Linked DNA regions of Homo sapiens. The protein of the gene in region 3 purifies or fractionates together with the protein of the main gene of each other region. This does not show direct contact. Each region holds a gene or a part of one and is shown on either strand. Other genes may lie near its edges. The genes, in order: KDM4B, IARS2, CHORDC1, TOMM34, PLBD2, NSRP1 and CEP120.

The links.
Region 1: the proteins of CHORDC1 (region 3) and KDM4B purify together in Homo sapiens (affinity purification with mass spectrometry; one large-scale study listed by BioGRID and IntAct). This does not show direct contact.
Region 2: the proteins of CHORDC1 (region 3) and IARS2 purify together in Homo sapiens (affinity purification with mass spectrometry; one large-scale study listed by BioGRID and IntAct). This does not show direct contact.
Region 4: the proteins of CHORDC1 (region 3) and TOMM34 purify together in Homo sapiens (affinity purification with mass spectrometry; one study listed by BioGRID and IntAct). This does not show direct contact.
Region 5: the proteins of CHORDC1 (region 3) and PLBD2 purify together in Homo sapiens (affinity purification with mass spectrometry; one large-scale study listed by BioGRID and IntAct). This does not show direct contact.
Region 6: the proteins of CHORDC1 (region 3) and NSRP1 purify together in Homo sapiens (affinity purification with mass spectrometry; one large-scale study listed by BioGRID and IntAct). This does not show direct contact.
Region 7: the proteins of CHORDC1 (region 3) and CEP120 purify together in Homo sapiens (affinity purification with mass spectrometry; one large-scale study listed by BioGRID and IntAct). This does not show direct contact.

What each region holds. Positions count from the first base shown.
Region 1 is NC_000019.10:5,147,113-5,150,605, reverse strand, and holds part of KDM4B (lysine-specific demethylase 4B), read right to left. Parts: intron 249-3,493; coding exon 156-248; intron 1-155. UniProt on the Homo sapiens protein: Histone demethylase that specifically demethylates 'Lys-9' of histone H3, thereby playing a role in histone code. Does not demethylate histone H3 'Lys-4', H3 'Lys-27', H3 'Lys-36' nor H4 'Lys-20'.
Region 2 is NC_000001.11:220,104,132-220,107,631, forward strand, and holds part of IARS2 (isoleucine--tRNA ligase, mitochondrial precursor), read left to right. Parts: intron 1-1,759; coding exon 1,760-1,929; intron 1,930-2,929; coding exon 2,930-3,020; intron 3,021-3,500.
Region 3 is NC_000011.10:90,202,990-90,206,049, forward strand, and holds part of CHORDC1 (cysteine and histidine-rich domain-containing protein 1), read right to left. Parts: intron 2,577-3,060; coding exon 2,471-2,576; intron 439-2,470; coding exon 319-438; intron 1-318. UniProt on the Homo sapiens protein: Regulates centrosome duplication, probably by inhibiting the kinase activity of ROCK2. Proposed to act as co-chaperone for HSP90. May play a role in the regulation of NOD1 via a HSP90 chaperone complex. In vitro, has intrinsic chaperone activity.
Region 4 is NC_000020.11:44,946,898-44,950,397, reverse strand, and holds part of TOMM34 (mitochondrial import receptor subunit TOM34), read left to right. Parts: intron 1-1,520; coding exon 1,521-1,668; intron 1,669-3,500. UniProt on the Homo sapiens protein: Plays a role in the import of cytosolically synthesized preproteins into mitochondria. Binds the mature portion of precursor proteins. Interacts with cellular components, and possesses weak ATPase activity.
Region 5 is NC_000012.12:113,365,087-113,368,586, reverse strand, and holds part of PLBD2 (putative phospholipase B-like 2 isoform 1 precursor), read right to left. Parts: intron 1-3,500. UniProt on the Homo sapiens protein: Putative phospholipase.
Region 6 is NC_000017.11:30,179,316-30,182,815, reverse strand, and holds part of NSRP1 (nuclear speckle splicing regulatory protein 1), read right to left. Parts: intron 1,909-3,500; coding exon 1,800-1,908; intron 1-1,799. UniProt on the Homo sapiens protein: RNA-binding protein that mediates pre-mRNA alternative splicing regulation.
Region 7 is NC_000005.10:123,413,404-123,416,903, forward strand, and holds part of CEP120 (centrosomal protein of 120 kDa), read right to left. Parts: intron 2,722-3,500; coding exon 2,607-2,721; intron 1-2,606. UniProt on the Homo sapiens protein: Plays a role in the microtubule-dependent coupling of the nucleus and the centrosome.

The DNA.
Region 1 (3,493 bases), on a different chromosome or scaffold from region 3:
GACCAGCTGTGCTGGGGCGGCCGGGACCCCCTTCCAGCAGAGGTGCAAGAGGAGGGGGTGGTCCACGCCATTGGAAGACGCAGTCTGTGCCCTGCCTCGTCCCAGACGGGCTCCCTGAGTCACCCGGAGCCACCAGGCCAGCCTCGCGCACTCACCAGCCGAGAGCGGACCCTCTTGGGCAGCTCCTCCTCCAGGGTGAAGATGTCCCCACGCTTCACCGTCAGCTGGGACCCGTCCTCAAACTCCACCTGCAGGGGGATGTGGCTCTCAGGGGCCTGGCACTGCCAGGATGGCAGGTGCTCCAGGCAGGCCACGGCCTCAAGAGCTGGGAGGCCAGCCCCCTTGGGTGCATGGGGCCCGCTAGAGGCCACATGCAGCCAAGCTGAAGCTCATGTCCACCTCTGACACCGCCTGCAGCAAACAAGGATCAGGCTGAGGGTCCCGTACCACGGGGCAAGGATGACGGAGGACGGGACAGCCTGGGGCAGAGGCAGGGCCCCGCAGCTTCCACATGGAGACAGAACACTCACCCCTCACCTCCTCCCAGCTCAAAAGACATCTGTCTCCATGAAGACACAGCCCCAGGACAAGGTGACAGAGTCACTGGTGGACACAGAGCCAGGCAGGAGGCGCAGTGCCCTAACAGGGCCTGGGAGGCAGGGGAGGCCGGACAGGCGGACTCAGGGGCCTGAGCTCAGGAGCCCCCAACCAGAAGGTGAAGGACAGGGTCCCTGGCTTATGTGTGGCCCTCTGAAAACAGCTCAGTCACCTCTTCCCTTCAACTCAGAGAAAAATCACCCCCTTCCAGCCTCCCCAGCTGGTGCCTTGTTCCAGGTGGCAGATGCCTGACTGGTGAGGGGCACTGGGAGCACCCCGCTTCCTCCTCGTTAAGCTTGGTGCCAGCTCAGGCTCGCGGAGACTCTCTCAGGGGCCCTCTGGCAACACAACACTGTCCCATGAAGGGCGTGCCAGGGAGGGGCGTGTCTCCAGGCCCACCTCATAACTGCGATGGGCGCCGTGTTCCCAAGCCAGGAAAGGTGCTGGGGTCACTCCCTGGGCCTGACTGCCGTTCTGCTCCAGGGGGAGAAGGTTCCCATATCAGAGGGCTCGCTTTTCACATTTAAAAACTCAAAACAAGCCAGGCATGGTGGCATGTGCCTGTGGTCCCAGCTACCCAGGAGGCTGAGGTGGAGGCTGTAGTGAGCTCTAATTATGTCACTGCACTCCAGGCTGGGTGACAGATCAAGACCCCGTCTCAAAATGAACAAAATGCACACATAAGACTGTCACAGAAGCGTACAAAAGTCACACACTAAGACCATGACGGAAGTGTATAAAAGTCACACAGTAAGACCATCGCGGAAGTGTGTCTGGGGCTAGACGCCCCACGTAGTGTGCAGCGGGGGGGCCCGGGATCGCAGCACCTCCCTCTCCAAGGGAGCACAGACCCTGCCTTGGGGCAGCCAAGCCTGCCGGTCCCTGTGACTCCTCCAGGGATGGGTGGGGATGGAGACAGACGTAGGCCCTGGAGCAAGTGTCTGCTGTGGGTTCCACATGCCTCTTGGCCGGCGCAGGCGGCGGGAGAAGCAGGGCTGGGAGTGCCCAGTGTGGACTCTCAGATGGCCGGTTGCCTCTGGGCCGTGTCCTGGGACGACAGCACACATCTCTCGGGGATGTGTGGAGGAGCCTGCTGGGAACCAAGGACATGGGTGCCACCCTCTGCCCCGTCCTACCCATCTCATTTGTAGAGGAAAGCCACCGGGAGAAGGCCCCTTCCCAGCGTCTGTCCGGTGAGGAGAGTCTGGGTGAAGGAGTCCTAGTGTCGGAGCCCCAGCACCCCGGAAAGCGATTTCCACCCCCGGCGTGGCCAGGCTCCGCTTTGCCACGGGCAGCAGCGGGTTTTGGAGGCTCCGCTTTGCCAAGGGCAGCAGCGGGTTTTGGAGGCTCCGCTTTGCCACGGGCAGCAGCGGGTTTTAGAGCTCCCACTGCAGGAGTCCCAGGGCCCACCTGCTGCCTTTCCCCAGCTCCCCGGCCCCGACTCGGCCTCTCGGCTTCTGGCAGGCGTGGCACACAGTGATTCAGTCAGGCACAGAAGCAGCCTTGCCAGGAGGGGAAGGCGCGTTCTAGAAACTCAGTGGAAACTGGCTCAGGTTTCTGGGTCAGGAAGACTGCAGAGATCCGCCCCAGATTCTCAGGAGCACAGAACCGCCTAGGAGGATGGCGCTCACACTGCCGGGTCCAAGTGGGCTCCAGGGAAACTTCTGTGCCTGGGTCATTTGGGAACTGGGGGCTGACTGGAGACTCAGGCTGATTTCCTCCCAGTGGCCTCCCTGGAACGTGCTTTCACTATGAGTCTCCACAGGGCGAGTTCTGAAGGCGGCGTTTGCTTTTTAACATTTTGAGAAAACTGGATATACTTGCAGCTACAGGAAATCAGAGGCGTGCGCCTCGGCCCGGGCTCCCTGTGGTGACGTCTTGCCCGGCACGTCTCAGAAGCATCTCGAGGGGTCACGTGCGAGGGAAACATGTTCCAAGTGTTCCGGACAGGCGGGGAGGCTCTTGGGGCCTTGGCATGTGGGGGTCTCAGCCACTCGGCCTCGCTGTCACCTGGGCCCACCCCAGCCACCCGCCCCGCTGACCAGGCCCTTGGCCTCGGGGCAGGCAGCTCCAGCCCCATCTCCTTGGCCACCACACAGCGGGCGTTTGCATGATTGTGTGATCGAGGTCCTGCCGCCACCTCGCAGGCAGGCGCGCACTCCACGGTGGCTTGCTGGCTTCCGATACCACCCATTCCTGATTCCACAGCCTCTGCCCCCCCGCCCCGAGCACTCTGGAAATGTGACTTTTTTTTTTTTTTTTTTTTGAGACAGGGCTTTGTTTCATCACCCGGGTTGGAGTGCAGTGGCGCGATCTTGGATCACTGAATCCTCAACCTCCCAGGCTCAAGTGATCCTCCCACCTCAGCTTCCCAAGTAGCTGGGACTAAAGGTGCGTGCCACCATGCCCAGCTAATTTTGTTTTTTTGTAGAGACAGGGTTTTGCTGCGTTGCCCAGGCTGGTCTCGAACCCCTGTGCTCAAGCGCTCTGCCCACCTCAGCCTCCCACAGTGCTGCGATCACAGCATGAGCCCCCGCGCCTGGCTGGCATCATCTCATTTCTGACTGTCTCATTAGCTCGGCTTCCTTGAGGTGAGCTCCCCTGACGCTGGCCCTGCCTGGGCTCTGGTGACATGACAATGATCCTGGGAGCACTTCCTTCGCCACCAGGGTGGGGGCTGCGTCAGCGCCTCTTCTGTGGGATGTTGTCAAGACCCACCCTGAGTCTCCCTTGTCATTTTCCACCACAGTTGTGCTCTGTGTACGTTATAAATGGCTATTTATCTATTTGTGTGTTTTCTATCATCTCCATAGGTTTCTTGAGGGAGGGAGAGAGACTGGCACATGCTCAGCCTGATCTCTGGAGTAAACTTCCATGGTGTTCTAGAGGTCCTGGC
Region 2 (3,500 bases), on a different chromosome or scaffold from region 3:
CCCGGCTAATTTTGAAAAAATATTTTACAGAGATGAATTCTTGTTGTGTAGCCCAGACTGGTCTGGAATTCCTGGGCTCAAGTGATCTGCCTGCCTTGGCCTGCCAAAGTGCTGGGATTAAAGGCGTAAGCCACTGTGCCTAGCCCAAAATAATTCTTTGTGAGCTATAATTTGGGACTTTTGAGGTAGTGACTGCTTTGAAATATAATTATGGAAGTCTAGGGAAGTTTAAAATTAGCTTTTTGTTGTTGTTGTTCTTCATTTTGTTTTGAGACGTGGTCTTGCTCTGTTGCCCAGGCTGGAGTGCAGTGGTGCCATCTTGGCTCACTGCAGCCTCTGGATCCTAGGCTCAAGTGATCTTCCTGCCTCAGCCTCTTGAGTAGCTGGGACTACAAGTGTGTGCCACCATGCTGGACTAATTTTTAATTTTTTTGGTAGAGATGAGGTCTTGCTACATTGCCCAGGCTGGTCTTGAACTCCTGGCCTCAAGTGATCCTCCTGCTTTGGTCTTCCAAAGTGCTGGGATTATGGGCATGAGCCACTGTGCCTGGACTAAAATTCTATTTTATTTTATTTTATTTTTAAAGAGATGAGGTCTCACTATGTTGCCCAGGCAGATCTTGAACTCCTGAGCTCAAGTGTTCCTCCTGCCTCTGCCTCCCAAAGTGGTAGGATTATAGACGTGAGCCACCATGCCTGGGCTAAAATTATCTTTGATCCTTAGGTATGATATATCTTTTAATTTCTTGCTAAAAAATCTATCACATGAATAAAGATACAAAAACTGCCTAGAAAGACTGCCTAGCTAAATAGGAAAGCCCTCTAAATTAATCAGTTCAGATACAAGCCAATGAGAAGTTTAAACAACCTTAACAAAAATAAAAAGATTTTTATGTCAGAGGCAGGAAAGGAGCTTAAGAATTTTGAAGACCATTTGGTCCTCTTTGGTGCAATAGGGTAATAAAAATAAAAACCAAGATAATAATTTACTTCACACCCTCTCTCACTGTGTTGCCCAGGCTTGTTTCAAACTCCTGGGCTCAAGCAATCTTCCTGCCACAGCCTCCCAAAGTGCTGCAATTACAGACATGAGCTACTGCACCCAGCCCCCTGCTCTTTTATAAATGCAGAGGATATTAAAGACTTCATTGTCAAGTTATACATTATCATAGAAGCTAAAAATCACAAGATTTTTGAAAGTGTTAAGGTTGAATTTAAAGATCTTTTGTCTAGATAGCATAATTGTTTCAAATTCTTACTATCAGATAATTATTGAGTTGCTATTTGAGTCACCATATTGTGGAGGAGTATATATATTATCCCTGTCAAAATAAGCTGGTGTCACGTAGCTACTACTTATTAAAGTAGTAGGAATGTTGAAGAGCTAAAAATGAAGTAATTTGTATGGGGTAGGTTTTCTTTCCGGAAAAAAATGAATTATTTCTTATCAATTACTTAGAGATCATTTTGGGAGGGTGGTGAGGGAGAATATTAAGTGGTAGATGCAGTAAGTATCAAAACACTTAAACTACATTAACTCTGTTTATTCTCACAGAAACCCTCTGAGGTGGGAACCATAATTATCTGCATTTTATAGATTATAGAAGGTCACAGAACAAGTTAAAGGGGAAGCTGGAATTTAAGCCTAGCCAGTATTGTTCTAGATTCTGCACATTTAACCTGATACTCTATTGCTAAGCTTAAGGAGATAGATTTGCCATATAAAATGATTCTTAATAGTGGTTTTCTTTCCCCACAGGTGTAGATTTGGAAAATGGTACTTGCAGTCATCCATTAATTCCTGATAAAGCCTCTCCTCTTTTACCTGCAAATCATGTGACCATGGCAAAAGGAACGGGATTGGTTCACACAGCCCCAGCTCATGGTATGGAAGACTACGGTGTAGCGTCTCAGCACAACCTGCCCATGGTACTGTTCCTCTTTTATCATTTTTAATTATTCATCTTAATAAAAGGAAATGATAAATTCTAACCAACATCTTCATTTTTTAAAAATGATGACTTTTGTCATCATAATTGTGAAATGCTCAGGTTTGTGTAGTACTCTAAAGTTTCATTAATTCGTACTAATTGAAAAAGATTTCCCAGAATTAATAGAAAATTAGCACTTTAGAATTGAAGAATATATATCATGGGGCACTTTTAAAATACTTTTTTTCTAGTATCAAGTCACATAGACAAATTACTTTTATTCCCTGAAAAAGCCTGTTTGTTTTAGCTAAACAGTCCTTTCTACATTTACTTTACATACTTCAGTTACTTAGCAAGTATTTCCGTTTAGTTAAAAGGTGAGTCAGAAAGGGAACAACTGTGTATATAGGCATAGATTTGGAAACAATAGAGACCACTCAAAGATGTTTTAATATATTTTGTTACTTTTGTTATTAAAGTTTATGGATATGCTTCAATAACACATTTTGGCTTTGGTGATTTAAATGTATAAAATTCACAAATTCCTATTTCCTTTTCTTTTCTTTTCTTTTTTTTTTTTTTTGAGAGGGAGTCTTGCTCTGTCGCCCAGGCTGGAGTGCAGTGGTGTGGTATGATCTCGGCTCACTGCAACCTCTACCTCCAGGGTTCAAGCGATTCTCCTGCCTCAGCCTCCCGAGTAGCTGGGACTACAGGTGCACACCACCATGCCTGGCTAATTTTTGTATTTTTAGTGGAAGTGGGTTTCACCATGTTGGCCAGGCTAGTCTCAAATTCCTGACCTCAAGTGATCTGCCCACCTCGACCTCCCAAAGTGCTGGGATTATAGGCCTGAGTGCCGCGCCCGGCCAAGTACCTAGAATTTCAATGTAGAAAAAGACCAGGCTATACTGAGATGTTTTTATATATATTGTTTTGCCAGATATTGTCATAAGAGAAAATGTCTTGATATTTTAATTGTTCAAAATGATACTTTATAGGATTGTCTAGTGGACGAAGATGGAGTTTTCACAGATGTTGCAGGTCCTGAACTTCAAAACAAGGCTGTCCTTGAAGAGGGAACTGATGTGGGTGAGCATCATATCTGTTGATATCATACATGTTTTCTGAAAAGTAGGTAGCAGTAACCTTTGCTACCTATTTTCCCTCCTTATACTTTAACAGAAACAAAAAAATAAATTATGTCTTGTTTTGCCATATGTTTTAAAATGGAGTTTGGGACTTTTTCATCTTTTGCTTTGAAGCTGCTTTATTTAAGCAAGTCAGGGCAGTCAACAGGGAGTGAAGTTATTTTAGGGCTATGGAGATAATAATCAGCAGTATTACTTTTGTGGAAGGATACAATCAAGATCAGGGCTGGATGTTGACTGTAAATTACACATTCCCTACTCACTTTTTAACCCTTGTAAATAACTGACCTATATGGCATGATTTATGTATTAGAATCTTGGGAATCCTCCAGCCTTGAATTGTCTTTCTGTCTTCCTTTACAGATTCAGAGACCAAGTGCTATGAAAACCTTTCTTTGCCCACACTAAGACTAAGGCTATT
Region 3 (3,060 bases):
CCAATACTGTATTGTTTCATATGAGAAAAGCCACTGACAAAAAAGAATAACTGGCTTCAAGTTTCATATTGAGAACTAAGTACTATATTACTTGATAAATCTACTACAGTATCTCCAGAATGGTTCAGCAGTAAGTCTACTATACAGAAATTTTCATTTAAAATAGTTTCATAGAAGTAATTTAATTTTTTTTAATGGGAGTCATTATAAAATCTTACCCCCAAATCAGCTGAGATATAAACAATACTTTAAAATACAGTAACATAAAGAATGATGTATAGAAAAGAACTTTTACCCAAAATTATAAGATGTACTTACCAATGTGCTATTTGCTTCTACTCGGCTAAGTTCTGGAAGTGAGTTTTTAGCATATACTGAAATGGTAACTTCACCTCCAGTCTGATGCCAGTCATGTCTACATGGAACAACTTTTTTCCCCTGTAATGTAAGAGAAACTCTGTAAGTTAAAAAAGTGCCACATAATTAATTTCTTAAAAAGAGGAATTTGACCCATCTGAGAAAAAACTACCATGCACAACAACTAAGCACTTAATGTTTAAGGGCAAAAAACTTCTATATTTCCCAAGAGGCTTAAACAAGAAAATATATCATGGTACAAAGATTCTTCATAAATTTTATGATTTCAGAACACACTTACTCCTTCCCTTTGTTTTTTTCTTTCAGGGCCATAATATTGATACACAGCTAAAAAGACAATTTAAGAACTCCTACTAAATTTAATCCAATTTAACATTCTGTAACCTACTAAGTACTGTCATCAAAACATTCTTTGAAGACTGAAATGAAAGACATTTGTTTACTGGGATAAATCAGACAACACCTTAACCTCATGCACTAGAAACCTTATTTATTTTCTACAAATCAGAATCTAAGAAAAAAATCTGACCAGTTATTACTTTCTTCCCATTTTAATAAAGAACAAATGATTTTTGGATTTTCTGATTATGAAAATAATCCTTACATACCAGTAGTATACTATACTGCCCTACCAGTATTTTTTTTTATAGAGGCAAATGATGATTTGTTATATAAATGAGAACAATTTAGTTACATAATTCAGGAAACTGAGACACTACTGTTGTAAAAGGTACTATTTTCGTTTTGATAAAATTACATTAACTAAATTTAAATTATATATATCACTCACATTTTTCCCCTTAGCTACTAGCTTAGATACTTAATACTTGATAACTGCATACATTAAAAAACAAGAGAAATTACATCATTTTATCTAGGATTATACTCCCAAACTTAACATAATGGAAAACAACATTTTATTTTTTCAAACTAAAATTTTCAAACTTTTGGACTATAAAAAATACACTCTTTTTATTTAAAAACATTTCTGATAGTTTTGTGGTAGATGAATTTTTATAACTTCAGGGTATTTTTATAATATCCAACCATGTGTTATTAAAAAGCAACTAGGGCCAGGCGCGGTGGCTCACGCCTATAATCCCAGCACTTTTGGAGGTCGAGGCGGGTGGATCACGAGGTCAGGAGTCCAAGACCAGCCTAGCCAAGATGGTGAAAACCTGTCTCTATTAAATATACAAAAAAATTAGCTGGGCGTGGTGGTACGCACCTGTAGTCCCAGCTACTAGGGAGGCTGAGGCAGGATAACTGCTTGAACCCGGGAGGCGGAGGTTGCAGTGAGCCTGCACTGCACGTCTGGGCGACAGAGCGAGACTCTGTCTCAAGAAAAAAAAAAGTGGGGGAGGGGCAGCAACTACAGAAGACTAAAATATTGAAATCTCTAAATTAATTTGAAAATTTAATACATTATAAAATACATTAACAATAGCTAACAGACAAAAACTTATTGAGCAATAAGTTGCTCATCCTCTCACAATTTAATGGGGTTTTGGGAAATTATTTGCATAGCCCCCAAGTCTTTTTAAAAAGCTGTCCAGGGAAGTAGGAAATGATGCTTTTTTCCCCCCTTTTGATAAATATCCCATTAGCAAGCAGAGGCATTCAAAACAATTCCACTGAAACAAGACTGCAATCCTCCTCTCTGGCCACTAGATGGAGTGTTTGTGCATCTGTAAATGATTGAAGTTTTAAGTGGCCAAAAGAATAACAGAGGTCTAAACGTTTAACGTCATCAAATTCATAGAAAAGTAATTTTTAAAAAACAAAAAGTAGGAAGAGGCCATGGAGCTAATTTTATTAATTAAAGAAGACAAAAATTCTTCAATTTTGTCAGGCTTAAGTATTTCACAAAACCTCACATGCTTGCATCAAAACAGACAATGGCTATTTTGCTCAAAAGGCAGTACACTGGCAGCTTGACTCAGATTCATTTTATTTCGTAGTCACATCAAAGCTCTATGGTGCAAAAAAGAAAACTTTTTTTTAAAATCTAAAGACAGAATAATTTCAAATCTTTAAAAAATGACTCAGATGAATATAAACCCAGTGTGCTATTTTTGGAAGAGTTACTTACAGCATCTTTTTTAGTCCACATGTGTTTCCCTTTTGTACAGCCCTCTTGGGCTAAGAATGTATTAAAATCAGAAGTTTTTCTTCTACAACAGCTCCAGTATTTCATCCTTTAAATTATCACAGAAAAACTTCAGAAATAAAATCTCACAACCAATTAAATCCACAAGTATTTTAGGGATAAATCTGATTTTTAATAAGCCAGTAAGTGTACAAACTCTAGCATTTTACAAGTGTCTAAGTTACTAAAAATGAATGTACAGTATATCAGGAAGAATGTGGAAACAGAGTGGAAGATTTTTACACAGTGCTGCATTTCTATAAACTAGAGCATAATACAGAAGAGAGGCTCTCAACTGCAGGATGCGGAAAAGTATGGGTCGTCTTGGGATAATGTTGTCTTAGTGCCCCAGGGCCCAAAATTCTAAATGCCCTGCAATGTGTAGGACAGTCCTTCAAACAAAACATTTAGCCCAAATAGCATCACTTTTAAATACAGAATATGAAGAAAAACAGGCAGTTTATATCACAATGACCACTTAAGAACTGTAACCTTGTTTCTGTTTTCTCATGTATAAACACACAACATACAAA
Region 4 (3,500 bases), on a different chromosome or scaffold from region 3:
TAGAGTCTTAGTGTTTGAGGACTTCAGGATAGAAACTGACTTAAGTGCATGAGGGAGTCGGGGAAAGACTCAGAAGGGGTGGCAATGGAGGTGGAGCCTTGAGCTGGACCTTGAAGAAGGTCATCAGGTGGGAAGGAAGGAGAATCCTTGGCAGAGACAGTGGAGAGAGTTGGAGAATGAAAGTGCATGGGGGGAACAGTAGGAATAAGGATGACTGCAGAGTGGTGTGTTGCAGGGTGCCAGTGAAGCTGAAGCCCTACTTCAAGAGAAACCTGTGTGCATGTGCACAGGGAGATGTACCCACAAATGTTCGTAGAAGACTGTAATAGCAAAAAACAACTGGAGATAACCCAGATCTCCATAAATGGGAGAATGGACAATTCAGCTTTGGTATTGCAGCAATGAAAATGAAGGAGCTGCAGGTCTGTGCATCAACACAGATGAATCTCAGAAATATAACATTAAGGGGAAAAAGAAAAACCAAGTCATAAAAGAATACACAGACTTATTCTTCTGTATGAAGTTCAAAAACAAAGTAAACAGCAAATGATCTGTGGGTACTGTTGTATATAGTTATACTGTTTAAAAAGGTGGGGAAGAAGCACAGAATTGGGGATAATAGTTTCCTCCAGCAGTGGATTGAATTGAGGAAGGTCCCCCAGGACTTCAAAGGTCCTAGTTATGTTCTTTTTCTTAAACCAGGCAATGAATTCAGGGTGTAAACCTATAATCTTACCCTGGTCATAAATATTTAGTATTTTATAAAGATAGTTTTAAAAATTTTTGAAAAGCAGATGATATGGAGCTGAGGCTGGAATAATTAATTGGGGCCAAGCAGTGAAGGGCCTGAACACCAAGTTGAGCAGCTTGGATTTCACCATGTTCCCTCTGCTTCCTCTCCTTGAAGGCTGGAGCAGAGCTGCATGTGTTAGATGAGGGAGGATACTCACAGGCTCAGCCCAAACCAGAAATGAGGAATAGCAGGCTCTTCTCCCCTTTTCTCATAGCCCAGAAGCTATACCTTTTCTTTACCAGATATTTGTTTATTAGTATTTATTTACTTATTGTCCTGCTTTAAGTTTATAGTGTGTTCCGTACTTTCTTACATACTCTCAGATTTGACCCTGAAAATAGCCATCTGTGGAATTAGTATTGCCCTATTTTATTGGTGAGGAAATTGAGGTCCAAAAGTTAGGTAGGTCACACAAGATCTTCCAGCTACCAAGAGGCAGTGCCAAGGCTAGAACCTGGGTTGCTTTTTATCATTTATATATTTTTATGTGCATGCAAAAATGTTTTTATATCAGGATTCCCCAACTTCTTGATGAAAAACTGTTGAATTGCCCAGAAGCTATTAATTGGGGGAAGTCATTAATCAGGAAGGATGATTTACAGCAGGGGAGGAAATCTCTGGGAGAGAGGATTGTAGTCAGTTTGGAAGGGACGATGCTGAAGAGACCTCACTGATCTCAGTTGGGTGCTGCTCCATGGTTTTTTTCCTCTTCTGAATTTGTATCTAGTGCCTTCTGCTGGGGATGTGGAGAAAGCCAGAGTTCTGAAGGAAGAAGGCAATGAGCTTGTAAAGAAGGGAAACCATAAGAAAGCTATTGAGAAGTACAGTGAAAGCCTCTTGTGTAGTAACCTGGAATCTGCCACGTACAGCAACAGGTATCTCCTATACAGCTGCTGGCCTGGGGCATTTCAGGACATTTGTTCCATAGTCTTCTCTTGGACTGCAATGGGCCCTTCATCCCTAGCATTTAGTCAAGTATGTTATGGCTGAAAACATGCATCCACGTTGTGAGCTAGCCATGACCAGTGGCATTCATTCTCTCAAAAGGGTAGAAACTGAGGGATGCCAAATGGTAGCCTGGGCTTTGTTGGCCCCTGTCCCCAGAATTTTCATAAGCATGCAATGTAACTAAAAGCAGTGTGCCTGCTCTGCAAACACAACCCTAACACAAGTCTCTTAGCCTGTCCACCCCACCACGCTACGCTGCTCCCTACCCTTCTCCAAGACCCTCCTGTTAGAAATTCTGGCACCATTTCTGTCTGAGAGTACTGGCCCAGAAGCCAAAATGTGAAGTAACCATTGCCTGGCATGAGAGCAGGAAGGATGGGTACAGTCTAGCCTGAAAGGTTAGACTTGTGGGCCTGTAGAAAGTCCTGCACCAGGAGCTGCCGTCAGTGACCACTGACTGAGAACCTGGGAGCCAGGGTGCGGTCCCTTCACTGTGTAGGAGTGATTGTTCTCCAACAATGCTCGTATAGGTGGTCTTTCTGTTTTAGTGTTTAGAAAATTGAGGCTCAGAGAAGGAAGGGTTTTGCTTTAAACTCAGCCAGCCAGTAAATGTTGGCACAAGAATTGGAATCTGACTTCAACAAGATCTTCCTGTTACTTTTACTCTCAGAAGCTTGAAACATTCAGCAAGAGACCATATCAAAACCAAATGCTTAGTATAAAACATTATAAAATGTTAGAAATCTGTTTATCCTTCCCTACCAGCATACACATATCACTCTCTAGTTCAAAAATCTTGGATCTAATATAGACACATTGTTCCTTATTCCAAACTCTTGAGATAAAATGTGTTTTCCAGCCACGGTGGCTCAATGCCTGTAATCCCAACACTTTGGGAGGCTGAGGCTCCGGGAGGATCACTTGAGGTCAGGAGTTTGAGACCAGCCTGGCCAACACGGCAAAACCCCATCTCTACTAAAAATACAAAAAATCAGCTGGGCGCTGTGGCACATGCCTGTGATCTCAGCTACTCAGGAGGCTGAGGCAGGAGAATCACTTGAACCCAGGAGGCAGAGGTTACAGTGAGCCAAGATTGTGCCACTGCACTCCAGCCTGGGTGACAGAGCGAGACTCTGTCACAAAAAAAAAAGAAGTGTTTTCCATTTTAGTGAGGTAATATGGTCTGAATTATGTAACACCCCAGCAGTGTCTGGGGCAGCTTGCAGAAGTTAATTATTAGTATTTCTGCCAGTGAAACTTGAAAATTCCATGTTCACATGGGGTGGAATAGAGAAACTAAATAGCTTCATGTCAGTTCAGATCAGGTTTTGCTGCCCAATGAGTTGGAAAGAGAACTTGTAGTTTTAAAGCTTATATTTTGGAATTTTGCACCTGTGGTTTTATGTGGTTTTATTGCTGATTGGACCAGAGGGGCCACAATTTGCCAGGCTAATTTGAAAAAGAAGCCTGCAGCCTATTTGTTCCATATTTGTGTGGCATCTTCTAACTCCTCTATCTCTGGACCCTCTTTCACATTGCTTACCTTATGCTGCTGGACACCTCCATTAACTCATTTTTCTGGATCATTACCATATTTGGAGCTGTGTTTTGTCTTGTTTAGATACTGTTCTTCATGCAGGTGTCTGTGCCACACTGTTTTAATTGCTTTTGCTTTATAATATCTTATAGGGCTGGTCTTTTCTTCATTCTTCTTAATCAGAGCATTCCTAGTATTTTCCCATGTTTGTTCTTCTAGCTA
Region 5 (3,500 bases), on a different chromosome or scaffold from region 3:
TTGGGCTTGGTTGTGTCACGTGACCTGCTTTGGCCAATGGGATATGGGTGGAAGTGACAGCATGCTAGTTATAAGATTAGCCTTCAGGAAGCCTCACTTGCCCCTTTGTGCCTCTGCCATCACCATGGGAAGAACAAGCCCCGGCCAGCCCACTGGTCCCAGGGATATGAGAGCCACACAAGCACACCAGGTCTGTAGAGCTGCAGCATGAAGTAGAGCTGCCCCAGCAGCCCCACGGATCCATGAGAATCAATGTTGTTGGTTTAAGCTGCTGGATTGGGGCTGGTTTATCACACAGCACTGCTGCCCAATACTAGCGGATACATGTGAAAGGTCACAGAGTTGGCAGGGGCAGGATTCACTTCCAGGCAGGCTGGCTCCCACTCCTCTGAAGGAGCACTTCTCAACCTCTGATGTATATATGCAGGTTACCTGAAGGCCTGGTTAGAAGGCAGGTTCTGATCAGTTCTGCAATGGGGTCTGAGATTCTTGTTTTTTTTTTTTCCTGAGACAGAGTCTGGCTGTTTCCCAGGCTGGGGGGTACTGGCATGATCTCAGCTCACTGCAACCTCTGCCTCCCAGGTTCAAGTGATTCTCCTGCCTCAGCCTCCGGGGTAGCTGGGATTACAGGTGTGAGCCACCACACCCAGCTAATTTGTGTATTTTTAGTAGAGACAGGGTTTTACCATGTTGGCCAGTCTGGTCTAGAACTCCTGGCCTCAAGAGATCCGCCCACCTCAGCCTCCCAAAGTGCTGGGATTACAGGCACTTTGTTAAGATACTTTACAGTAGCTTAAGGCCACTGCACCAGGGCTTTTTTCTTTTTTTTTTTTTTTTTGAGACAGCATCTTGCTGTCACCCAGGCTGAAGTGCAGCGGCATGATCTTGGCACACTGCAGCCTCCGGCCTCCCAGGCTCAAACTATCCTTCCACCTACGCCTCCTGAGTAGCTAGAACTACAGGCATGTGCCACCACACCCAGCTAATTTTGGTATTTTTTGTAGAGACGGGGTTTCACCATGTTGGCCAGGCTGGTCTTGAACTCCTGACGTCAAGTGATCCACCTGCCTCGGCCTCCCAAAGTGATGGGATTACAGGCATGAGCCACTATGCCCGGGCTCTGCACTTCTAAGTAGCCTCCAGGTAATGCCAACACTGCCAGTCCTGGAACCATAGCAGGTCACAGACTGAGTCTCTACAATGAGCAAACTTCTGTTTGCCCACTCCCTCACTAAAATGATTACTAGCAAACTTTTTCATCTTTACCAAGGTGATAGCTGCAGAAGTTCCAACATGCTTCCAATTTTTAAATTAGTTGAGTTACATATATTTTCTTATTTTTATTGGTCATTTATATTTCTCTGTTTCATGTCCTTTATCCATTTTTCTCTATTGGGTTTTTAAAAATCTTTTCTTATTGGTTGGTGAAATTCCCTGTATACACATTAGCCCTCTGCTTGTCACTAACATTGAGAATACGGGGCCAAGCACAGTGGCTCATGCCTGTAATCCCAGCACTTTGGCTGGCCAAGAATTCGAGAAATTTGAGACCAGCCTGGCCAACATGGTGAAACCCCCATGTCTACTAAAAATAGAATAATCAGCTGGGTGTAGTGGTACACTCTTGTAGTCCCAGCTACTCAGGAGCCTGAGGCAGGAGAATCGCTTGAACTGGGAGGCGGAGGTTGCAGTGAGCAAAATGGCACCACTGCACTCCAGCCTGGGTGACAGAGCATGACTCTGTCTAGAAAAAGAAAAAAGAAGGGGAGGGAAGGGGGAGGGAGGGAGAGGAGGAGGAGGGAAGGAGGGGAGTGGGGAGAGGCCAGGTGGCTGATGCCTATAATCCTAGCACCTTAGGAGGCTAAGGCAGGAGCATCACTTGAGGCCAGGAGTTCAAGACCAGCCTGGGAAAGCAAGACTCTGTCTACACGAAATAATTTAAAAGTTACAGGTGCAGTGGGGTGTGCCTGTAGTCCCAGCTACTCAAGAGGTTGAGGCAGGAAGATCACTTGAGCCCAAGAGTTTGAGGCTGCAGTAAGTTATGATCATTCCACTGCACTCCAGCCTGGATGACAGAGCATGACCCTCTCTCTAAAATAATAATAAGAGAAAATATGTTTGTGTTTTAATTGGTTTTTGCATTTGTTCTTGCCATATAGACGTTTTCATTTTTGTGTAACCAGATCAATCTTTTCCTTCACGGTGCTAGATATCATTTTTGCTCCAAGGACACAAAAATATTCACTCATGTCATTTCTATAACTAGCGGGGGGAAGCATTTTTAAAGGCAATTTCTATTAAGAAAATGAGGGCAACAGGAAGACGCTAAAGAGACCTTGAAGAGGGTACAAGACAGGGAGAGGCAGGCTTGGCCAGGGCTGTCTCGTGGGAAGTTGGCTAAAAAGCCATCGAACACTTCCAGGACAGGAATAGCTCAGCCCTGGAGAAGACTCTGGAGAGGGAAAGACTCAAAAATGCCCACATCTGATACCTTCAGTAAGCAAGCCTTTTTGAGTGCCTACTGGCTGCCAGACATTGAGGGTATCTAAGGATGAATGATGTTCATCTGGCCTTCAAAATGCTAGTGGCAGCAGAGGGGAAAGGCATGAAAACAGATAAGGACATAACGGGGTAACCATTATGATGGAAAAACGAATAAAGTGTCAAGGGGTTGTCCTGAGGAGGTATACTGCTGCTGCTACAATTATCTGACTACAATCTGTGAAGGCATCACAGAAGAGGTGACAGCTGTTCTGGGTTTTGAAGTTTACATAGGAGTTTGCCAGGTGAAGAGAAGAGAGAAAGTAAAAGGAAGAAGCCTGAGTTCTGAATGTTCCAAAGCAAAGTACTTTGGGGCCAGCAGGGTGGGGCTGTGGGGATCTTTAGTGGGGCCTTGATACAGGGAATTACAGTAGCCCCAGAAACTGTGGTAAGTACTTACATTTTTATGTAACTCTAAATTCTTCCAAAAATGGCCAGGGCTCGGTGGCTCACGCCTGTAATCCCAGCACTTTGGGAAGCTGAGGAGGGCGATCACTTGAGGTCAGGAGTTTGAGACCAGCCTGGCTAACATGGTGAAACCTCGTCTCTACTAAAACTACAAAAATTAGCTGGGTGTAGTGGTGCGTGCCTGTAGTCCCAGCTACTCTGGTGACTGAGGCATGAATCGCTTGAACCCGGGAGGTTACAGTAAGCTAAGATTGTGCCACTATACTCCAGCCGGGGTGACAGAATGAGACTCTGTCAAAAAAAAAAAAAAAATTCTTCCAACAACCGTATGACATGGGTTTTATTCTTCCCATTTTACAGATGTGGGGAACCGAGGCTCCCACATAATACAGTTAGATGAAGTGATTTGCCCAAGGTCACACAGCAGGTGAGCAGCAGAGCTGAGACTAACATTCTTGAGTGAATGCTCTGCGCCTCTAACTCAACTCAGGTTTGTGGGGGAGTGTTGGGGGCAAGGAGGTATAGTTCTTATCAAATGCAGATGACAGCCA
Region 6 (3,500 bases), on a different chromosome or scaffold from region 3:
ACAACAGGCGCCCGCCACCACGCCTGGCTAATTTTTTGTATTTTTAGTAGAGACGGGATTTCACCGTGCTGGCCAGGATGGTCTCAATCTCCTGACCTCGCAATCCGCCCGCCTTGGCCTCCCAAAGTGCTGGGATTATAGGCATGAGCCACCGTGCCCAGCCATTTTATTTTTTGAGATGGAGTCTGGCTCTGTCGCCAGGTTGGAGTGCAGTGGCGCTATCTCAGCTCACTGCAATCTCCGCCTCCCGAGTTTAAGCAATTCTCCTGCCTCAACCTCCCCAGGAGGTGGGATTACAGGCATGTGCCACAATGCCGAGCTAATTTTTGTATTTTTAGTAGAGACAGGGTTTCACCATGTTGGCCAGGATGGTCTCCATCTCCTGATCTCATGATCCACCTGCCTCAGCCTCCCAAAGTGCTGGGATAACAGGCGTGAGTCACTGCGCCCAACCTACTTTATTTACTTTAAATTAATTTAAGTAGCTACACGTGACTAGTGCCTACATACTAACAGTGCAGTTCTAGCCCCGATATGTAAGTCTTACATTTTAGGAAGGCTGGGTTCTATTTATGAAAACAAACCACTTTCCTTTTTATACACTATCTGAACATGTATATAAGACTTATATTGTAGACACCTAATTCTTTCCAACTTTCTCCTTAATTCTGACAGCAAAATCATTTTAAGGTACCAGGCACCAATCATTTTAAGGATCATGAGGAATACCCACATTCTTATTTAAAAAAAAAAAAAAAAAAAAAAAAGCAGCCAGGTGCAGTGGCTCATACCTGTAATCCCAGCACTTTGGGAGGCTGAGATAGAGGGGGGATCCCTCAAACCCAGGAGTTCAAGACCAGCCTGGGCAACATAAAGCCCCATCTCCACAACAAAAATACAAAAAGAGGCTGGGCGTGGTGGCTCATGCATATAATCCCAGTACTTTGGGAGGCCGAGGCGGGTGGATCACCTGAGGTCAGGAATTCGAGACTAGTCTGGCCAACATGGTGAAACTCCATCTCTACTAAAAATACAAAGATTAGCCGGGCGTAGTGCATGCACCTATAGTCCCAGCTACTCAGGAAGCTGAGGCACGAGAATCCCTTGAACTTGAGAGGCAGAGGTTGCAGTAAGCAGAGATCGCGCCATTGCACTCCAGCCTGGGTGACAGAGCAAGACTCCATTCCATCTAAAAAAAAAAAAAACAAAAAAAAAAAACCACACACACAACAACAACAACAAAAAACACAAAAAGAAAATTCGCTGGGCATGATGGCTTGCACCTGTAGTCCCAGCTACTTGGGAGGATCATTTGAGCCCATGAGGCAAAGGCTGCAGTGAGCTATGATTGAACCACTGTACTCCATCCACCCTAGGCGACAGAGTGAGACTCTGCCTCAAAAAAAAAAAAAAAAAAGAAAAAAGAAAAAACTACAATTTGATTTTGCTTTCCCTTGAAGATTTTGCTCTCCCTTGTTAAGACCCATAAATCACTTAAAAATTCAGAAACTTTATACATTAAAAGTCTGTCTTTGGTTTTACAATAATATTAAACTCAATCACTGTTTTAATGTAACAATTTCTGTGAAATGCAGAATAAAAATGATCTTAAACTAAATCTGTAGGTTTTAAAATCAAGAAACTGCAAATTTCTAGCCATTCATTCAGTTAGGTAAGGCTGGCTGACAACACAATATGCAATGTTGTAATCTTCCATCTTTCAGAGGGTTAAAATGACCCCACAACCACAGATTATTAACAGTATTTTTCTTCAAAATATTTCATACACGTCTCCTCACCTGGCTTCACGAAAGCTGCATTTAGGTACTTCCTCTTCACCAACTGCTTGATTTAATAGGTGCCTATAAAATCCACTGAGATCTTTCTGCTTGGTTACATCCAAACATGCTAACAGAGGGAAAGCAAAAATTAGAATATATTCAATAAGGCACAGTGCAGTTTCATTTTACAGACATACAGTATATAACATACAGTGTGTAAACTACTCGCTGGATCAGGAGTTGGCAAACTGCAGGCCAAATCTGGCCTGTTGCCTGTTTTCATAAATAAATTTTTATTGAAACAAAGCCCTGTTCATTTATGTATTGTCCACAACTGCTTTTGTACTACAAAGGCAGAGCTCAGTAACTGCGACAGAGATCATATACACAAAAAGCCCTAAAGTATGAATATGATCTGGCATTCAAAATATGAATTTATAAATTTAAAGTCTTAAAATATGAATACTAAAATACTATCTGGTCCTTTACAGAAAGTTTGCCGACTGGCACTCTAAACACATAGTACATGCTTAGACAGAATGTTATAGACTTGGTTTTCTTCTACTTAAAAGCTGAAGAGGATGGGCGCAGTGGCTCACGCCTGTAATCCTACAACTTTGGGAGGCTGAGGTGGGTGGATCACCTGAGCTCAGGAGTTCGAGACCAACCTGGCCAACATGGTAAAACTCCGTCTCTATAAAAATATAAAAATTATCCAGGTGTGGTGGTGCATGCCTGTAATCCCAGCTACTTGGGAGCCTGAGGCATAAGAATCACTTGAACTTGGGAGGCAGAGGTTGCAGTGAGCCAAGATCATACGACTGCACTCCAGCCTGGGCGACACAGCGAGACTCTGTCCAAAAAGCTGATGAGCATTTGTCAATTAAAGTATTTACAGGGCTGGTCATGGTGGCTCACACCTGTAATGCCAACACTTTGGGAGGCTGAGGCAGGAAGATTGCTTGAGCCCAGGAGTTCGAGACCAGCCCCGGCAACATAGTGAGACCCCGTCTCTACAAAAAATACAAAAAGTAACCAGACGTGGTGGTATGTTCCCGTAGTCCCAGCTACTCAAGAGGCTGAGGTGGGAGGATCACTGGAGCCTGGGAGGTCAGGGCTGCAGTGAGCCATGGTTGAGCCACTGCACTCCAGCCTGGGTGACAGAGACCCAGTCTCAAAAAAAAAAGTATTTTATAAATACATATTCTACTTAGATCTTGAGAAATAATCATGAGTAGAAAGCACTAAGGTAAAGCATTAAGATATTCTTAATTCATCCAATTTTTATTCTTTCTTCAATTAATGTTATTCTTTTTCTAATTGCCTCATTGATCCTCCTTGAGTGGTGTTACTCTATTATTTTCTCATCCCAAAAAAATGTAACTAGGGTTTAAAATTATATTTATATTGTTTCTGACAAATGCCATGGCGTTATACTTTGTAATAAATGTTTTTACATTTCAGATCATGTTCTAAGGCAAAAGCCACAAAATGAGAACTAAGAGAAAAGTCTAGTAGAAATAATAGTTACTGAAGAGTTCAACTGTGTTTTTAGTTAAACTTTCCTTTCTGTTTTATACTGCTATATAATACCATATTCCTTGTGTCTTGAATTCCTATATATAAATTATGATCACAAACTCATAACCCTAAAGTTCAGTGACAGAGCAAACAGCTAACCACAGGGGAGAGATTCTGCTACTGTTTCCTTGTGCCTTT
Region 7 (3,500 bases), on a different chromosome or scaffold from region 3:
CTTGACTGATACTCGAACAAAAGCCTTCTTACAGAATGAAGCATCCTAAATTATTTGAATATCCCCACTAGACCAACCTCAGAAATTCTAGTACTCAAGATAGCCTGAAAAATATCATGCCTACATATATTATTAGGGCAGGAACCACTGATCAGTGGGAATACCATTTCAATACTTGGAAACAGCATTTTTTACTCTGATCATTTGTTATATAAAGATATAGTAGATGGTGCTTATATTGTCTTTGTTATATAAAGACATAATAAATGGTGCCTATACTGCTATTTTATATTCAAGTCATGTTTGATAAGTAAAATAGAATTAAGTAGGCCAAAGCTTTAAATAAAAATCAACAACCTAATTTTTTAAAGATAAAAATGCATAATACAGTTTGTTGATGTATTTCTTATAACAAATATGTTATAATTTTGAATATAAGCCTGAAAGAAAGATTTCCAGCTACTCAGAGAATTGATGACTTTTTCTGTTATATAACTCAGAAAAATAAATCTGGATTTTTTTCTGTTTATATTTATTTACAGAGAATCAATTTATTTTGAACTTCAAATATTGTACTATCCAATTACAAATATTTATGCTGACAAACAGGAGAGAATAAGCAATACAGCATTTAGTTTAAATAACTGAGCCATTTCTCCCTTTGATTACAAATATGTTGACAAACTGTTCTCAAGGACAAGGGGACAAAGAATGCCAAGAGTATTTAGAGGCATGACCTCATCCCTCAGATACCCCCCTAAGAGGATTTACCTTCTCTGCAACTAAACTGACTGCAGAAGTGTCTTCTAGACACTTGCACGCTACATGAGAGAAGGTGGTTAAGAGAAACATCAAGAGCCCAATCAAAGCCCAGGGTCTAAAACTAAAGAAGGAAAAACCTTTTCAGAATAAGATCTAGTGGCAGAGAGGCAGTGAGTACCAAGGATGGGGGGAAAACAAATCCTCTTTTAAAGCATTTTTAAATTTCAGTTTCTTTTAAATTATTCCAACCTTGGGCTAGGCTGACTGATCATATGCAAATATCCTTGCTATCAGCAGCAAAAATATTAGTAAAAGATAAGTTTTTCTTCACAGAATCCCAATTTAAGATTCAAATCAAGAATGGCGTTTTAAATAAAAGAGAAGATATTATTTTAATTGTTTAACTTTTTTCCCCCCTTAAGAAAATTATGACCCAAGACAATCAGAAAAATTGCAAGGGAGATTTCTAAAGTCGGTCACATACAAAAAGGTCAGAAGATACTTAAAGCGCTAAGCAGCGGCCGGGCGCGGTGGCTCACGCCTGTAATCCCAACACTCTGGGAGGCCAAGGCCGGTGGTTCATGAGGTCAGGAGATCGAGACCATCCTGGCTAACACGGTGAAACCCCGTCTCTACTAAAAATTCAAAAAAAAAAAATTAGCTGGGCATGGTGGCGGGTGCCTGTAGTCCCAGCTACTGGGGAGGCTGAGGCGGAAGAATGGCATGAACCCGGGAGTCAGAGCTTGCAGTGAGCCGAGATCGTGCCACTACACTCCAGCCTGGGCAACAGAGCAAGACTCCATCTCAAAAAAAAAAAAAAAAAAAAAAAAAAAAAAAGCCCTAAGCAGCACCATGTTAAATAATAAAAGTCACCATCACAGGAATCAGGATGATTCTGAGTTCTTTCTCTTGGGAGTAGGGGGGCAGAGAGGTACTGGTTAGATAACATCAACTGTGTTTCAATAAGTTCACTTGCTCTGACTGCTATGCAAGGAATGCAAGGAGCAGGAAGCAGGGAGGCTATTATGATAGCCAAGGTAAGAAACAATAGCAGCTGAGTTTGGGGTGGCAGCAGTGAAAAGCAGAATAGCAGACAGATCAGGAGGGAAAAAACCCAACTGGGAACAGGTAGTTATGGAGGAAGGAAAAGGAAAAATGTCAAGGAAGACTTCTGTATTTCTAACTTGTATAACTGAAAGGGGAATGCTGACAATTCACTGAAGCAGGAAACATTAGAAGAGGATGAACCACCTTTAAAAGGAAAGCTCAGGGGCTAGGCATGTTAAGCTTCCGGTAATAGCAACTTGGATACAAGTCAGTTCAGAGATGTCTTTTTGAGCAAGACAGTTCTTGGTCAAGGAAATCACTAAAATGTTGAGATTTTCTAAATCTAATTCATAAACTAAAACATAAGAACTGCCATATTGGCTGGGTGCAGTGGCTCACACCTGTAATCCCAGCACTTTGGGAAGCCAAGGCAGGCAGATCACTTGAGGTGAGGAGTTTGAAACCAGCCTGGCCAACATAGCAAAACCCCATCACTAAAAATACAAAAGTTAGCCAGGCGTGGTGGTGAGTGCCTGTAATCCCAGCTACTCAGGAGGCTAAGGCAGGGAGAATTGCTTGAACTTGGGAAGCGGAGGTTGCAGTGAGCCAAGATTGTGCTATTGCACTCCAGCCTGGATAACAGAGACTCCGTCTCAAAAAAAAAAAGAACTGCCATATTGGCTCAAGTCTATGACTGATCAGGTCTAGTATTTCATGTCCTTTTCATCAATCTGTTATCTACTGAAAATAATCGACTGTCTAACATAATCATTAGCAAAACATCAAAAGGGCAATACCTGCTTTGTTTCTTGAGCGGTTCTTAAATCCAGAACGATGTAACCTATGGTTTCCTTGGCTGAAGTTACAGGATCCAAGGCAAAACATTGGAGTTTGATAGGAGTACGCTGTAGCCTATAACAAAACATGTGATAAATAAAATGGTTTTTGCTTAATAAACTTTCTATTGGCCTTGAAAATATTTCCTATTATCAAGATACTTATAATTTTGTTGGATAAAACTGTAACTATTTTACATTGTCTAAAAAACTCTTCAACAGGCAAGAACTAGGCCAGGCGCAATGGCTCACGCCTGTAATCCCAGCACTTTGGGAGTTCGAGGAGGGCAGATCACGAGGTCAGGAAATCGAGACCATCCTGACCAACATGGTGAAACCTCATCTCTACTAAAATTAAAAAAAACAAAAAAAAATAGCTGGGTGTGGTGCCACGCGCCTGTAATCCCAGATACTCAGGAGGCTGAGGCAGGGGAATTATGTGAACCTGGGAGGCGGAGGTTGCAGTGAGCCGAGATCGCGCCACTACACTCCAGCCTGGGTGACAGATCAAGACTCCATCTCAAAAATAAAAATAAAAATAAAAATAAAAAAAATAAACAGGTAAGAACTATTAATTATATCTACTAACCTCTACACCAACTAAATATTATACAAAACATGTCAACATATTTTACATTCTTTCATCTAAGAAGCCATCATGTAGGTCAATGTTTCTTAAGCTTCTGTAATGTGTAAAACTTTCTGAAAGTAAAAAATTATCATGAATTTTCAGGACCTATTTTATTTCTCTTATACTGTAACATACATAAAATTACAAATACAAATACATGCTTATAGCTCTTTTGTAGCTAAAAAACAAACAGGAATTAAATATAAAATAAATTAAAATTTAAA